2 separate regions of the Homo sapiens genome follow, and region 1 is linked to region 2. The links come from fine-mapping of genetic effects on gene expression. A gene starts in region 2. The other region holds a variant in brackets. All regions are shown on one strand. Distances are between the middles of the regions.

Region 1 (8,334 bases), 170 kb after region 2:
GGGTGGGGACGGTTTTGATAACAATGTACCACTGTTTATTGCTTGGGACAGTTCAGCTGGAAAAGAGAGAGCAACACATCAATTTCACGACTTTCCAATGCTTTGAAGGGCCGGCCCAGGGCCTAGAATTAAAGTTGAGTTCAGTTTTAATCTTTTAAGCAAGTTAAATAATTTCATAGTTTTGCCATTCCCTATATATTTTATCCTGAAATGAAGTTTATATTTATTCAAATAGAAGGCTTAATAAATGTACAGAGGTGTAGGAAGACTGATGAGTAGCTTACTTCATTGCTATGGCAACAGATATGACAATTTTTTTTTTTTTTTTTTTTTTGAGACAGGGTCTCACTCTCTCGCCCAGACTGGAGTGCAGTGGCGCGATCTTGGCTTACCGCAACCTCTGCCTCCCGGGCTCAAGCGATACTCCTGCCTCAGTCTACCAAGTAGCTGAGATTACAGGCGCACGCCACTACGGCCCGGCTAATTTTTGTATTTTTAGTAGAGGCGGGCTTTCACCATGTTGGCCAGGCTGGTCTCGAACTCCTGACCTCAAATGATCCACCTGCCTTGGCCTCTCAAAGTGTTGGGATTACAGGCGTGAGCCATGGCACCCGGCTGACAACTTTTTGTAACTTGATCTTGGTGTAGTTAATATGAATAGAGACAAAAAAAATCTGATAAAAAGTTATCTTGTGGCTGGCACGGTGGCTCACACCTGTAATCCCAATACTTTGGGAGGCCGAGGTGGGCAGATTACTTAGGTCAGGAGTTCGAGACCAGCCTGGCCAACATGGTGAAACCCCGTCTCTACTAAAAAAAAAAAAAAAAAATTACAAAAATTAGCTAGGTGTGGTGGTGGGCACCTATAATCCCAGCTACTCAGGAGAGGCTGAGGCACGAGAATCTCTTGAACCTGGGAGGCGGAGGCTGCAGTGAGTCAAGGTCATGCCACTGCACTCCAGGCTGGACAGCACAAGACTCTGACTCAAAAAAAAAAAAGTTATTTTGTATAACAGTACTCCATTAAAAAATTTAAACATTCAGATAGCATAAAATAAGTATTAGTGGGTATTGTTACCATATCCTGATAATGGTATCTAGATATCTTAGCTCTGTGTTATAAAACTGTCAATACTGACATCTTGAATTTTTATAGCAATTGCAAAGTCCTTTGAAGAAATCAAAGTGTTTTTTGTCCTTGAAGTCATATTCTCCTTATACCACCTGAGGTGACAGGGGAAAAAATATAGCATCTTTACCATTTTTCAGAAGGAAAAGGCAAGGCCACAGAAGCTAGGTGACTTTGCCCAAGATCATACTACAAACTGGCATGGACTCAGCTGGTATCCAAGTCTCTGACTATTTGACTGCATCCTACTGTCTCTAATTTTTTTTTTTTTTTGAGACGGAGTCTTGTCGCCCAGGCTGGAGTGCAGTGGTGCCATCTCGGCTCACTGCAAGCTCTGCCTCCCGGGTTCACACCATTCGCCTGCCTCAGCCTCCCAAGTAGCTGGGACTACAGGCGCCCACCACCACTCCCGGCTAATTTTTTGTGTATTTTTAGTAAAGACGGGGTTTCATCATGTTAGCCAGGATGGTCTCAATCTCCTGACCTCGTGATCCGCCCGCCTCGGCCTCCCAAAGTGCTGGGATTACAGTCGTGAGCCACCGCGCCCGGCCTACTGTCTCTAATTTTTATTGGTATGCACACCTCTTATGTTCCCTTTGCACCTCAGCTTCCCATGTTCACTCTCCACTATATCATGGGCTCCTTGATGGCAGGGCAACCTTGTCTCCATCAACATATCATCCACAGGGCTGTGCACAGTACCTGGCATCTAGTGGACCCTCAATATATGTTTATTAGATGAGAAGCCTTCACCCTGTATCATGACAGTATATATTCCTATAGTTTCACCAAAGCCCACAATGACTCAGCAAAGGTGTTGGTGTTGTTTCAGCAAAGTCCCTTTGGAGGGCTCCAGATGACCTGTAAGAAGTGGATCATCAGATCACACAGGAGTAAAACTGGTAAAGTAATTAAAGGGTAGTTATTTTTTCCCTGCTGACAGGAAAAAAAAAAAAAAAGTAGTTCTTTTGATCACCAACCTCTAACCTTCTACTCAAACCCTTTAGTTTCATCCCACTCAGTATTCTCAAACACTCTCAAAAACTTCCCTTAAATAAAACTGTATTTGTCCTAAATCTCCAAAATTGGAGATGTTCAAAGTAAAAGGCTAGCTAATTATTTTTTTCTTTTTTGAGATGGAGTTTCACTCGTTGCCCAGGCTGGAGTGCAATGGCGCCATCTCGGCTAACTGCAACCTCCACCTCCTGGGTTCAAGTGATTCTCCTACCTCAGCCTCCTGAGTAGCTGGGATTACAGGCATGTGCCACCACGCCCGGCTAATTTTTTGTATTTTTAGTAGAGATGGGGTTTCTCCATGTTGGTCAGGCTGGTCTTGAACTCCCGACCTCAGGTGATCCACCCGCCTCGGCCTCCCAAAGTGCTGGGATTACAGGCATGTCCGCTTTGCCCGGCCAAGGCTAGCTAATTTTATAATTCTTTTTTTTTTTTTCTTTTGAGACAAGGTCTCCCTCTGTTGCCCAGACTGGAGTGCAGTGGCATGAACAATAGCTCACTGCAGCCTCGATCTCCTGGGTTCAAGTGATCCTCTTGCTACAGCCTCCCAAGTAGCTAGGACTACAGGCCCATGCCCCCATGCCTGACTAATTTTTTTAATTTTTAGTAGAGACAAGGTCTCACTATGCTGCCCAGGCTGGTCTTGAGGTCCTGGGCTCCAGTGATACACCTATCTCAGCCTCCCAAAGTGCTGGGATTATGGATGTGAGCCACCACACCCAGCCTCTTTTCTTTTTAAATTTATTTTTATTTTTAAATTAAATTAATTTATTTTAGACAGGGTCTCACACTGTGTCACTGGAGTGCAGTGGCGCAGTCACGGCTCACTGCAATTTTGACCTCCCTGGGCTCAGGTGATCCTCCCACCTCAGCCTCCCAAGTAGCTGGGACCATAGGCATGTGCCACCATGCCCGGCTAATTTTTG[G/T]GGGGGGTATTTTTTGTAGAGATGGGTTTCTCCATGTTGCCTAGGCTGGTCTCAAACTCCTGGGCTCAGGTAATCTACCTGCCTCAGCCTCCCAAAGTGTTGGTACTACAGGTGTGAGCCACTGTACCTAGCCTTTTCTTTTTTTTTAGAGACAGGATGTTGCTCTGTTACCCAGGCTAGAGTGCAGTGGTGCAATCATAACTCACTGCAGCCTTGAACTCCTGTGCTTACCCAATCCTCTTACCTCAATCTCCCAAGTAGCTAGAATTACAGGCACATGTCACCATGCCCAGCTAATTTTTAAATATTTTATAGAGATGGGGTCTTGCTACGTTGCTCAGGCTGGTCTTGAACTCCTGGCCTCAAGTGATCTTCCCACCTCGGCCTCCCCAAATGCTGGGATTATAGGCATTGAGCCACTGTGCCTGGCCTAATTTTGTAATGTTTTAATGTCTCTCATCATAAATAATTTTTTTTTTTTTGAGACAGAGTCTCGCTCTGTTGCCTAGGTTGGAGTACAGTGGTGCAATTTTGGCTCACTGCAACCGCCACTTCCCGGGTTCAAGTGATTCTCTCCTGCCTCAGCCTCCTGAGTAGCTGGGATTATAGGCATGCACCATCATACCCAGATCATTTTTTGTATTTTTAGTAGAGATGGGGTTTCACCATGTTGCCCAGGCTGGTCTCAAACTCTGGGCCTCAAGCGATCTGCCCACCTCGGCCTCCCGAAGTGCTGGGATTACAGGCATGAGCCACCATGCCTGGCCCCATAAATAAATTTTAAAAAAGGCTTTCTAGAAAAACACTGCATACACACACAAAAAGATTCTAAAAATGTGAATTTTAGGAGCAGTGAAAGAGATATTTTTGGAAAGATTGGATTTTTGCTGATTCTCTAAAAATAGCTGTTAGCTATTCCATCTACAACAAAACTCATTCCTGATGAGACCATAAATGAATATTTTTACTTTTGAATTAATAAAATAAATTCTATTTGGTAATTTGAGGAAGGCATATATGTTAAGGAAGTAAATTCTGGTATATATACCCTGACAACAGCATCTGGCTGTAGTTCTGTGGAAAAATTTCAGAGTGTTTCTGGGATGGGTAATAATTCCCTTTCACCCGTTCAGCTATTGCTGGTGGTTTTTCCTTAGTCGTAATACTCCATGTTATATGGATGAGAAGACAGTAGTACTTCTGAAGCAATGATTTCCAAACTTTTGGATTTCAGTGACCAAAACAATAACAAAAATCTTGATCAACCTCAGATTGTTGGTTTTTTTTCTAGTGTTTTTTTGAGGTTGTCATTTTCTAAGATTTCCAAATAAGGCTTGATATTAAGTAAACCATTTATGATCATAATCCTTTTGTGAAAGAAATGGCATTTTAACACCAAAGGATTAGGAAGGTTGTAATTTTAGAATAAAAGAGAGTCCTTTAAATTAAATCTATTTAGCTCTAAGAAATGCTCTGTGAACTGTTCTATTTTTCTTCTTTTGTTGAGGACCCCTCATGGACTAATACTGATTCCTCAGTTACAAGGTCTATTGTTTTGGGCTATTTACCTCAAGCTAAGAATGAGCTCTGCAGTTTAGTCCAGGGTATCATACACAAATTATCATTTTATATGTTGCCTTAACTTGAAAAGGGTGGTATGCCACTGGTGTAGAGCAGAGGCTCTTAATGTGTGCTCCCTGGAGAGCAGCATCAGTGTCATCTGGGAACCTATTAGAAAGGCAAATTCTCAAGCCCATCCCAGGCTTACTAAAATCAGAAACTCTACGGGTAGTGTCCAGCAGTCTGTTATCATAAGCTTTCTAGGTGATCCTGAGGAGAACACCAGTTTGCAAACACTACTGTAAGGAACAGAGGTCTGGACCTGAGAGTTGAAAAGCCTATGTTCAGTTTCTATCTTTCACTAACTACAACCTTCTTCTTTTTTTTTGAGATGGAGTTTTGCTCTTGTTGCTCAGGCTGCAATGCAGTGGCACAATCTCAGCTCACTGCAACGTCTGCTTCCCACGTGCAAGCAATTCTCCTGCTTCAGCCTCCCGAGTAGCTGGGATTACAGGTGCCTACCACCATGCCCGGCTAATTTTTTGTATTTTTAGTAGAGATGGCGTTTCACCATGTTGGCCAGGCTGGTCTTGAACTCCTGACCTCAGGTGATCCACCCGCCTCTGCCTCCCAAAGTGCTGGGATTACAGGCATGAGCCACTGCGCCTGGCCTACAACCTTGAATGAGTCACAATGTCTTCATGTTCTAATTGCCCTACCTATGGAAAAGATAAAATTGGTTTCCTGCAGCACAAGGTAGTTTTGAAAATAAGTATGTGAAAGCTCCCCAAGTTCCTCACAGATAAGTCAACATGACACTATCCATCCAAAGTGGTGGTAATAACAACTTCATCCTGTTTTCATCAAGCTACTCCAAACTGTCATACTCATAAAATATTCTAAGCCTGTTTTTCAAGGTTTGAATCACTCCACCCAACATGGTGATATTAAATATTTAATGAGTATAGTTTTTATTCATTCGTTCAATCGTGAACAAGAACTTTAAGCAATACTAAGCCTAGTATCATTTTTCCTGAAAAAACTATATTTTTATTAGCTTTGAAGCACTCATTAGCTTTCCTCTCCCTTTCTTGAAAATTCTTCTAAGAAATTGTGCATTTATATAAAGAAAGTAGACTTAAATAGAACTTTGGGTAAATGCAAAAAATTTACTAAACCCATACAAATTTTACTGATTATATTCCCTGCTTTCTCTACCATCACTTATTTTAACATAAGAATAGCATTCTTAATTCTCCCAAGATAAAACATGATTTTATCAGAACAATTTAAGTAATAGCTTCTGCAGTTCCCTGTGAAGATAACTATGCCAGACACTGAATCCCAAATTCCACTGGCATCTACAGAATCATCCTTTTATCTACTAGACTCATTAATGCTTATGGAAGGCATAGGTAGTTTTAAGTAGATTTAAAAATTTTCATTTGAAAAGTTTGCCTTGCCCCTTGTGAGCTGAGGCATTATTCTAATTTTTCAGCAAGTGCCACAGATAATTCCATGCAGGTGGAATCTGTTATGGTTTTCACATATCCAGTCCAATTACACACACACACACACACACACACACACACACACACACAAATATGTATAGTGTTTTGGAATCATTGTTTTAGAAAAACAGATTAAATATTAGATTAAAAAATAGGTTAAAACCCCCAAAACTTAAATCTAATCTTAGTGATGTTTACATTTATGGCCATCTGCCTCAGTTTCATGACTTTTTTTGTTTGTTTGTTTTTGTTTTTTTGAGACGGAGTCTCTCTCTGTCGCCTAGGCTGGGGTGCATTGGCACAATCTTGGCTCACTGCAACCTCCGCCTCCTGGGTTCAAGCAATTCTCTTGCCTCAGCCTCCCAAGTAGCTGGGACTACAGGCACGTGCCACCACGCCTGGCTAATTTTTTGTATTTTTAGTAGAGATGGGGTTTCACCATGTTGCCAGGATGGTCTCAATCTCCTGACCTTGTGATCCACCCACCTCGGCCTCCCAAAGTGCTGGGATTACAGGCGTGAGCCACCGCACCTGGCCTATTTTTTCTTAACCTAAGACTTTTCTCCATATTGAGGTCATTCAAAGGGACAAGATATGGAAAATTCTCACAGACCAAATCAATGTTGTACCAGTTATCAAATAAAATAACCATCCAACATCAAACCAAACCCAAAACACTGGAAGCCTAAAGACTTACTTACCAATGACAGGGTTGCTATTTCTGTGAGCTGGTTTAGGGGGAGGGATAGGGGGCTGCTTGGCAGGGACCATATGAGTGAGGCTTGGGGTAGCAGTAGTGTTAGTGCTGGCAGGAGCAGCAGGCAGAGTCCTGGGTGCTGGGGAAGGGGTGACAGAGAGATTAACAGTCTTTGCAAGGCTTGTGGCAGCAGTGGTGGCAGCGGGTGCTGTGGTGATGGAGGTGGAGATGATGAACCTTGCCGTGCCGCCAGAGGAAGTGGCATCCTTTGCTTGCCCTTCACTTGCTTCATGAGAAGAGGACAAGGGTCTTTTGGGAGGAAGTAAAGGTGGTTTGGGTACATTCTCAGGAACAGACTCTGCTTCAGAATTAGGCTGGCTTCCAGTTGAGCCTGTGTAATAACATGTATGGTATAAAAAGGGAAGAGAGAGTAACAAGAGAAACTGAAAAAGCTAACACATCTATGAATTTGTGGCCAATTTCACCAATTAATTTATAGATTAGCTTATAGGTTACCATTCTCAATGCCTCCCAACCTCCCCATACTTAAGAAATGTCAGTAAGAAAGGCTCACTAAGAGATGCTCATTGTGGTAGTGATTCTTCACACAAGGGCCAGGCTACTGGAGGAGAGCCACAACAAAATTCCTTGGGTGAAAGAAGTGGAATGTGTAGCTGGAAAAAATCCTATAGGTATCTGATACTTAACATCCTCTTCCCTTCTTGAGGATCACAAATTTAGGTATTTAGTGAATAAAAGCGGGGTGGGGGAGGAAATTCCCCTTGAAGTTGCTAGTTAAGGTATTGTTAAAGGAGAATGTAATTCTCTCTAGATTTCACTTTTCCCTGTTCTCTTGCAAACCCCTTATGTAAGGAGAATAACTGGCCCGTGGCTCTTAAACTCAAAAATCCAGAGTTTCTTACCTAGTCGTTTCTTTAGGTCCTCTTCTGGAATAGCTTTCCTAAGACTTGCTAATCTTACTGGCTCTTCCTCTACTTGGACTGGACTAGATGATCTGGCATTCCCTATGGGGGTGGTATGGCCATTCTTTAACATGGCATCGCTTGGCTTTCCTGGATCCTCACCACCTGCAAGGTGAAAGAAGAGTACAAAGTGATGAAGTTGGCATGAACAGATAGAAAGAAGAGTTAGTAATTTCTTTTTTTCTTTCTCTCTCTTTTTTAAATTGAGACAGGGTCTCACTATGTTGCCCAGGCTGGTCTTGAACTCCTGGGCTCAAGCAATCAGCCCGCCTTGGTCTCCCGAAGTGCTAGGATAAATGGCATGAATCACTGCGCCTGGCCAGAGTTGGTGATTTGAGACAGGGTCTCACAGACCAGGCTGGAGTGCAGTGGCATGATCTTGGCTCGCTGCAGCCTCTGCCTCCCGGGTTCACGCCATTCTCCTGCCTCAGCCTCCTGAGTATCTGGGACTAGACGCCTGCCACCACGCCCGACTAATTTTTTGTATTTTTTAGTGGAGACGGGGTTTCACCGT
Region 2 (8,334 bases):
CATTAATGTGAAAAATGAAATACTGTACCTCAGATGACTGAAGTAGATCTTTATCAACACAATTTTTTTTTTTTTGAGACGGAGTCTCGCTCTGTCGCCCAGGCTGCAGTGCAGTGGCGCGATATCGGCTCACCGCAAGCTCCACCTCCTGGGTTCACGCCATTCTCCTGCCTCAGCCTCCCAAGTAGCTAGGACTACAGGCCCCTGCCACCATGCCCGGCTAATTTTTTGTATTTTTAGTAGAGACGGGGGTTTCACCATGTTAGCCAGGATGGTCTCGATCTCCTGACTTTGTGATCCGCCCGCCTCAGCCTCCCAGAGTGCTGGGATTATAGGCGTGAGCCACCGTGCCCGGCCTGTTCCCATTTTTTTTATGGATAATGATGGACGGGTGCTGTGGGTCATGCCTGTAATCCCAACACTTTGAGAGCCCAGGAGTTTGAGACCACAATGGGCAACATATAGAGACCTCGTCCCTACCCCAAAATAAAATATTAACTGGGCATCGTGGCATGGGCCTGTGGTCCCAGCTACCCCAAAGGCTGAGGCAGAAGGATTGCTTGAGCCAGGGAAGTCAAGGCTACAGTGAGCCATAATCATGCCACTGCACTCCAGCCTAGGTGACAGATGAAGATCTTGTCTCAAGAAAATAAAAAAAAAACAATATGTGACAATTGTAAAGAAATTGAAACAGCACAGAGATGTTATAAAATGTGAAAATGCTTCCTCCAAACTGTGAACAGTTTAGTGTTTATCTTGCCAGACTGCTTTCTATGTATGTACACATCGTATATATATAAAAATAAATGTTTTCAGGCCAGGCATGGTGGCTCATGCCTGTAATCCCAGCACTTTGGGAAGCTGAGGTGGGTGGATCACCTAAGATCAGGAGTTTGAGACCAGCCTGGCCAACATGGTGAAACCCTGTCTCTATTAAAAATACAAAAAATTGGCCGGGTGCGGTGGCTCACGCCTGTAATCCCAGCACTTTGAGAGGCCGAGGTGGGCAGATCACTAGGTCAGAAGATCGAGACCATCCTGGCTAACACGGTGAAACCCCGTCTCTACTAAAAATACAAAAAATTAGCCGGGTGTGGTGGCGGGTGCCTGTAGTCCCAGCTACTCGGGAGGCTGAGGCAGGAGAATGGCGTGAACCCAGGAGGTGGAGCTTGCGGTGAGCCGAGATTGCACCACTGCACTCCAGCCTGGGCGACAGAGTGAGACTCTGTCTCAAAAAAAAAAAAAAAAAAAATTGGCCGAGTGTGGTGGCAGGTGCCTGTAATCCTAGCTACTAGGGAGCTGAGGCAGGAGAATCACTTGAACCTGGGAGGCAGAGGTTGCAGCGAGCCGAGACTGTGCCATTGCACTCCAGCTTGGGCAACAAGAGCGAACTCCGTCTCAAAAAAAAATAAATAAATAATAAAGTAAAATGTTTTCAACACAAAATATAGACTGTTAGGTATTTTACTTTCTTTAATATATTTTAATAATACATGGAGTTCCCTGCTCTTTACAAAGTAGAAGTCACAAGAGAAAGGAGATAAATAAACAGCTCTTACATTGTAATAGGAAGCAGATGTGTTGTATAAACTTGTGAGAAGCCCAGAGATGGTGCTGTCAATTGCTCTTCCTATCATCCACCAGTGTTATCTCTCTCTCTGTCTTTTTTCCTGAGACAGTGTGTTGCTCTGTTGTCCAGGCTGGAATGCAGTGGTGCAATCATAGCTCACTGCAGCCTGGAACTCCTAGGCTCAAGCAGATCCTCCTGCCTGTCAGTCTCCTGAGTGGCTGGGACTACAGGTACACACCACCATGCTGAGGCTAATTTTTTTTTTTTTTTTTTAGAGACAGTGTCTCCCTATCTTGCCCAGGCCGGTCAAACTCCTGGGCTCAAGCAGTCCTCCTGCTGCGCCTCCCAAAGTGTTGGGATTACAGGTGTAAAGCCACCACATCTGACCTTATCTCTCTTTTTTTTTTTTTTCCCAGACAGTCTCACTCTGTTGCCCAGGTTGGAGTGCAGTGGCACGATCTCGGCTCGCTTCAACCTCTACCACCCAGGTTTAAGCGATTCTCATGCCTCAGCCTCCTGAGTAGCTTGGGACTACAGGCACGCGCCACTACACCCGGCTAATTTTTAAAATATTTTTAGTAGGTTTCACCCTGTTGGCCAGGCTGGTCTCAAACTCCTAACCTCAAGTGATCCACCTGCCTCGGCCTCCCAAAATGCTGGGATTACAGGCGTGAGCCACAGTGCCTGGCCTGGCCTTATCTGTTTTTTTGTTGTTGTTGTAGTTTTGTTTGAGATGGAGTCTTGCTCCCGTCACGCAGGCTGGAGTGCACTGGCTCAATCTCCGCTCACTGCAACCTCCACCTCCCGGGTTCCAGCGATTCTCCTTCCGCAGCCTCCTGAGTAGCTGGGGTCACAGGCGTGCACCACCACGCCCAGCTAATTTTTGTATTTTTAGTAGAGATAGGGTTTCACTATTTTGGCCAGGATGATCTCTATCTCCTGACCTCGTGATCCTCCTGCCTCAGCCTCCCAAAGTGCTGGGATTACAGGCGTGAGCCAGGGTGTCCAGTCCTTATCTCTTAAAGAAAAAAAAAAAAAAGAAGAGGCCGGGCGCAGTGGCTCCTGCCTGTAATCCCAGCATTTTGGGAGGCCAAGGCAGGCGGATCACGAGGTCAGGAGATCGAGACCATCCTGGCTAACATGGTGAAACCCCATCTCTACTAAAAATACAAAAAATTAGCCGGGCGCGGTGGCGGGCGCCTGTAGTCCCAGCTACTTGGGAGGCTGAGGCAGGAGAATGGCATGAACCTGGGAGGCGGAACTTGCAGTGAGCCGAGATAGCTCCACTGCAGTCCGGCCTGGGTGAAACAGCGAGACTCCGTCTCAAAAAAAAAAAAAAGAAAATTCATCTACTTGGGAAGCTGAGGTGGAGGAGGATCGCTTGAACACAGGAGTTTGAGGCTGTAGTGAACTATGATTGTGCCACTGCACTCTAGCCCTGGTGACAGAGTGAGACCCTGTATCATTTAACAATCGCCATAATTTCACCGTTCTTCCAACACCTTCCCATTGCATACTGAATATAATCTCAAGTCCCCATCATAGTCTAGGCTAAAAGGTCCAGACTATAACAAACCCCTGCCTACCTCTCCAAACTCATTGTCTTTCCCGGTTACCAAAGCTCCAGCCACCTTGGCCATCTTGGTCCTTGAGTAAGTGTTTTCCTTACTGAAGACCATGGCTCAGGCCATCAGCCAGCTAGATAAGTCTGGCTTATTCCAGTATTCTCTTCTATCACCCTTTTGTGCAGTTGCTAATGGTCTGTTTCCCACTCTAGGTTGCAAACTTTCTAAGGACAGAGATCATCCGTCTTAGCCACCAGTTATGTACTCAGCACATAGCAAAAGGCTTGTCACACAATGAGACTCAAACACTTGTCAAATGAACGTATATACATTCAACCTGGGTCTTAAAAAAGATGTATAGGCATTCAACAACAAAAAGTGGTATGCCGGACCCTAAAAAGAATGGAGAGCAGTGGCAAGGAAATAAGGCTAGGAATACAGCTTAGAGCCCAATGTTCATGAGGACTTGAATCTGAGAATTTGGATTGGGTGGCAGTGTAGAGGGTGGACTGGGAACGTGGTAGGATGAGGATTAGGAAGATATAAAGACAGGGCAGGATGCCGCACCAATCTGGGCACCTCTTCCTAATTTCTATGTGGCTCACTCTGGCCTGTCACAGCTCTTTATACAATTTTTGGTGTGTTTGTGGGTTCTTCTCCATCTTACTGTGAACCTTACAGATGCTGGAATTGGGTCTTACTTGCATGCCTAACATTCCAGCATACAGTAAAAAATAACAGCTGTTCTCTTTTTTTTTTTTTTGAGACAGAGTCTCGCTCTGTCGCCCAGGCTGGAGTGCAGTGGCGCGATCTCGGCTCACTGCAACCTCCGCCCCTCCAGGTTTAAGCAGTTCTCTGCGTCAGCCTCCGGAGTAGCTGCGATTACAGGCGCATGCCACCACGCCCGGCTAATTTTTTGTATTTTTAGTAGAGACGGGGTTTCACCATCTTGGCCAGACTGGTCTTGAACTCTTGACCTCGTGATCCACCCTCCTCGGCCTCCCAAAGTGCTGGGATTACAGGCGTGAGCCACATAACAGCAGTTCTCACCAAGCATCTGACAGCCGAAAAACTGAAAGCATTAGAGAATGCTACAGGACAGGCTTTGGCTTAGTAGTGAGTTCTGAGTTCAAGCTGAGGCTCTGCACTTATTAGCTAGAACTTTGCTTAATCTCTCACAGGTCTCCTCTAAATGATTAAATGGCGTAACGGAGGTAAGCGGATTAGCACAATTCCCGGCAAACAGTAAGCACTCAATTGTTACTACTGAATTGCCAGTTCACAGGCACAACCAACCGATCTCTCTCATCTCCTGGTTCCTCTGTTGCCAACTTCCTCGTTGAGGTCCAACAGGATACCTGTGGGGTAATGTGTCCCAGATGATATCCCAGTCCTGACACCAAGACAAAGGCACCAACCAAAAATGGCGACCTCAAAGCCATCCGAGGGCGTCAATTACCCGTCATGCTACCGATAGATAAATAAGCAGCGTCGGGAAGAAAAGCTAGTGAAGGATTCTTAACGCCGGGTTGGAATACGCAGAGCTCGCTCATGCTGCCACTCAACCACAAGCAGTTAAAAGCGCAAGCTGCAGGGTGTACCTACACACAGCTCAATATCGCCACCACGTGTCGGAGGGCAGTCTGCGCCTGCGCAAGCGAGGCGCGCGCCCGCCGGCCGGAAGAGCCGCGCGTTTCCGGGTTGGAGGCGGGGAGCGGTGCCGGAAGTAGTCGGGGAGGGCCGCGCAGTCGGACCGGCTGCTGAGACGAACGCTTCACTGGGGCAGTCTCTGCATATCATGGGGAGATAGACGCTGCTGCCTGTGAGTCTTGGGCCCTGGCAGTTGAGGAACAAGAGCGGGAGGAGGGAGTCAGGACCCAGACCTACAGTGGGTCAGTGTTCGAAGGACCAGGTTGTGGACGAGACGGGGCTGTGAGGATTCAGGCTCTTGGGAAGGGACTGACTGAGAGGATCAGGCTCGGAGAAGACGCGGCTGTGGGGACCCGGGCTCTAAGACGGGACTTAGGGAACGGGGACGGATGCGAGTTCTCCGGCATCTGAGGGAAAGTGGTCTGAGAGGAGCAGGATTATGAGGACCCGCACTCCTACGAGGAAAGGGTCAGAAAGGAACGGGGCGTGAAGACACAGGCTCCGGAGAGGTAAAAGTGGAGCGGTGAGGACTTGGGCTCCTAAGAGGCAGAAGCGGGACAGTGAAGACCCGGGCTCCTAAGGATTCAGAAACGGGGCAGCGAAGACTTAGGTTCCTGAGGGGCAGAAGCAGACAGAGAAAACTTGAGTTTGGAAGGGAACAGAAGCGGGCAGTGAAGACTGGGGCTTCTTTGGGGACGGGATCCGGGCTTTGAGACTCCGAGTTCCTGAGTCTCGGAACAGGGCTGTGAGTACCCAAGCTCCTAAAAGCCTTGGATCTAAGGGACCATGGATATGAGATCAGCCTACAAAGTAAAGGGAAAGGGTTTGGAAAAGATTTAGTGATCCATTTTTTCACAGTATTCCCTGAACCCAGAGAGATAAAGGACGTATTCAGGGGAAGACAACTTCTCCTTCGCACTGCCTACTTGGCTCTTGGCAAGCTTTTCTTGTGTCAGATACTCAATCTAGGAAGCCCATATGCAAACATCTTCATTTTCTGCTTCATTCTTGGGAATCAGATGTGAAGTTGAAAACAGTTGGAACTCAGTTATGTACTTGATAAGTGCTTTAAATCCCATTCCACTCAACCCTGAATGAGCACAGATCTCTGCATCTCAAATAAAAGAATGTCAGTGATGGAAGAGTCCCAAAAGATCATCTTTTAAAAACTCCTATTTTACATTTAAGAAGGCTAAGGTTCAAAGAGGCTTAGGATTACAGTGAGGCAATGGTTAGTTAGATCATAATTTTAATACAGTACCCTTCTGTGCGTAGCAAATGAGATGCTTGGTTAATGTTCCTTAAATGCTTCTAGAATCTTTGCTTTATCTTCAAACTCAGGAGGGAATTTTTTTTTTTTTTTTTTTTTTGAGACAGGTTCTCTCTCTGTCGCCCAGTCTGAAGTGCAGCGGCTCAGTCTTGGCCCCGTGCACCTCCAACCTCCTAGGCTCAAGCAGTCTTCCCACCTATACCTCCTGAGTAGCTGGAACTACGGGCGTGTGCCACCACGCCCTGCTAATTTTTAAATTTTTTGTAGAAACAGGGTCTCACTATATTGCCCAGGCTGGTCTCAAACTCCTAAGCTCAAGTGATCCTCCCACCTTGGCCTCCCAAAGTGCTGGGATTACAGGCATGAGTCACCTCACCCCCCTTGCAGTTTTTGTTTTTGTTTTGTTTTGTTTTGTTTTTTTGAGACAGAGTCACCCAGGCTGGAGTGCAGTGGCACGATCTCGGCTCACTGCAATCTCTGCTTCCCCAGTTCAAACGATTCTCCTGCCTCAGCCTCTCAAGTAGCTGGAATTACAGGTGTGTGCCACAATGCCCGGCTACTTTTTGTATTTTTAGTAGAGACAGGTTTTTGCCATGTTGGCCAGGCTGTGTTTCGAACTCCTGATCTCAAGTGATCCGCCCGCCTCAGCCTCCCGAAGTGCTGGGATTATAGAAATGAGCCACTGCGCCCGGCCCAGTTTTTATTTCCAGTAAAAACTGGAAATTTTTACAGTTTCTGATAATTTGAGTGTTGTTACTGTATTGACATTAATACAGTAAATGTCACTTAATAGTAAGGAAACCTTTATTTTTATTTTTGTGTTTTTGAGACAGGGTCCTGTTCTGTTGCCCATATTGGAGTGCAGTGGCATAATCATAGTTCACTGCAACCTATATTCTTGGGCTCAAGCACTCCTCCTGCCTCAGCCTCCTGGGACTGCAGGTATGAGCCACTACACCCAGCTAATTTTTAAGTTTTTTTGTAGAGACAGTGTTTGGCTGTGTTGCCTAGGCTGCTGTTGAATTCTTGGCCTCAAATGATTCTCCCGCCTTGGCCTCCCAAAATGTTCTTATAGGCATGAGCCACTGCACCTGGCTGGAACCTTTAAATAAAGCTCAGTGTTATTTATTTATTTAATAAGCTGTTTGGAAAGTCATAAATAAGTGTGTCCTGTATTTTTAGTGCAAACATTTACTAGGGATGGCTGCTTTTGGATAAGGATGGTGGGGAGACTTGCACCAGTCACTTCCTTCAATATTAATATCTTTTTCTGAAACCTACTCAGACTAACGAGGCACAGCTTATGCACTATCGAGTATTCTATGATTTAATTATCACAGCCCCACAAGTTAGATATTGTCAGTCCCGTTGTACAGATAATGAAATAGGTTTAGAGAGGTTACTTTGCCTGAAATCACACAGTGACCCAACCCCAGTTACATGTGCCTCTAAAACTTTTTTCTACTCTTCTAAGTGGATTCCTCTCAGTTTGTCCATCAGCAAAATAGAAGTAATCGTTATACAAAACATATAATTGAATGAAAGCATCTCCTCCTTCTTAAGGCTCCTCTAAATGTCAAGGACTATAACATATTAGGGTACTTATGTATTGTGGCATTTGAGAACTAAATTCTGTTTTCACAGAAGCATAGATTATTCAAGATAGAAAAACGGGAACTTTGTAGAGCTTTTCCTTGCAATGTAGAAAGACATTTAATTTTAGATTTAGGAGGCCAAGAAAGACTAATTTGGACTGGGCATGATGGCTCACACCTGTAATCCCAGCACTTTGGGAGGCCAAGGCGGGCGGGTCACCTGAGATCAGGAGTTCGAGACCCGCCTGGCCAACATGGCAAAACCCCGTCTCTACTAAACATACAAAAATTAGCTGGGCATGGTGGCACATGCCTGTAGTCCCAGCTACTCTGGAGGCTGAGGTGGGAGAGAATCACTTGAATCCTGGAGGTGGAGGTTCAATGAGCCGAGATTGTGTCACTGTACTCCAGCCTGGACAACAGAATGAGACTCTGTCTGAAAAAAAAAAAAAGTAATTTGAAAAACAAGGGCTTAAATTTGATTGATTTTCCAGTTAATTATATCATGAACTAGATGTTTGGGGGAATTGGGCTTAGTTAAAACTACTATTTTTTCCCCAGGGTTAGCCTGTACTATTTGCAAGCGCCTATTATATATAAATGATCAAAACTAACTTATACCAACTTATAAGGGAAAGCATACCGATGCCCATGTCACCACTTCAAAGTACTTGATGGTTTAAT

Evidence for each region. PIP is the estimated chance that this variant, and not a neighbour inherited with it, causes the effect. A credible set is the group of variants that fine-mapping cannot tell apart.
Region 1: its variant is the best candidate, but not a certain one, in a credible set for the expression of TAF12 in whole blood (TOPMed, PIP 0.58).

The regions. Positions count from the first base shown.
Region 1 is chr1:28,465,276-28,473,609 of GRCh38, reverse strand. It overlaps PHACTR4 (phosphatase and actin regulator 4), which reads right to left. Exons shown (of 14, transcript NM_001048183.3): 5 at 7,761-7,925; 6 at 6,842-7,228; 7 at 1-56. Among named protein-coding and RNA genes, the nearest start is that of SNHG3, 36 kb to the left of the region's middle. The variant G/T (reference allele first, on the strand shown) is at 3,070.
Region 2 is chr1:28,639,615-28,647,948 of GRCh38, reverse strand. It overlaps TAF12 (TATA-box binding protein associated factor 12), which reads left to right and starts at 4,882. Exons shown (of 6, transcript NM_005644.4): 1 at 4,882-4,957. It overlaps TAF12-DT (TAF12 divergent transcript), which reads right to left and starts at 4,693. Exons shown (of 2, transcript NR_146730.1): 1 at 4,186-4,693. RefSeq lists an enhancer at 2,331-2,830 and a silencer at 3,038-3,332.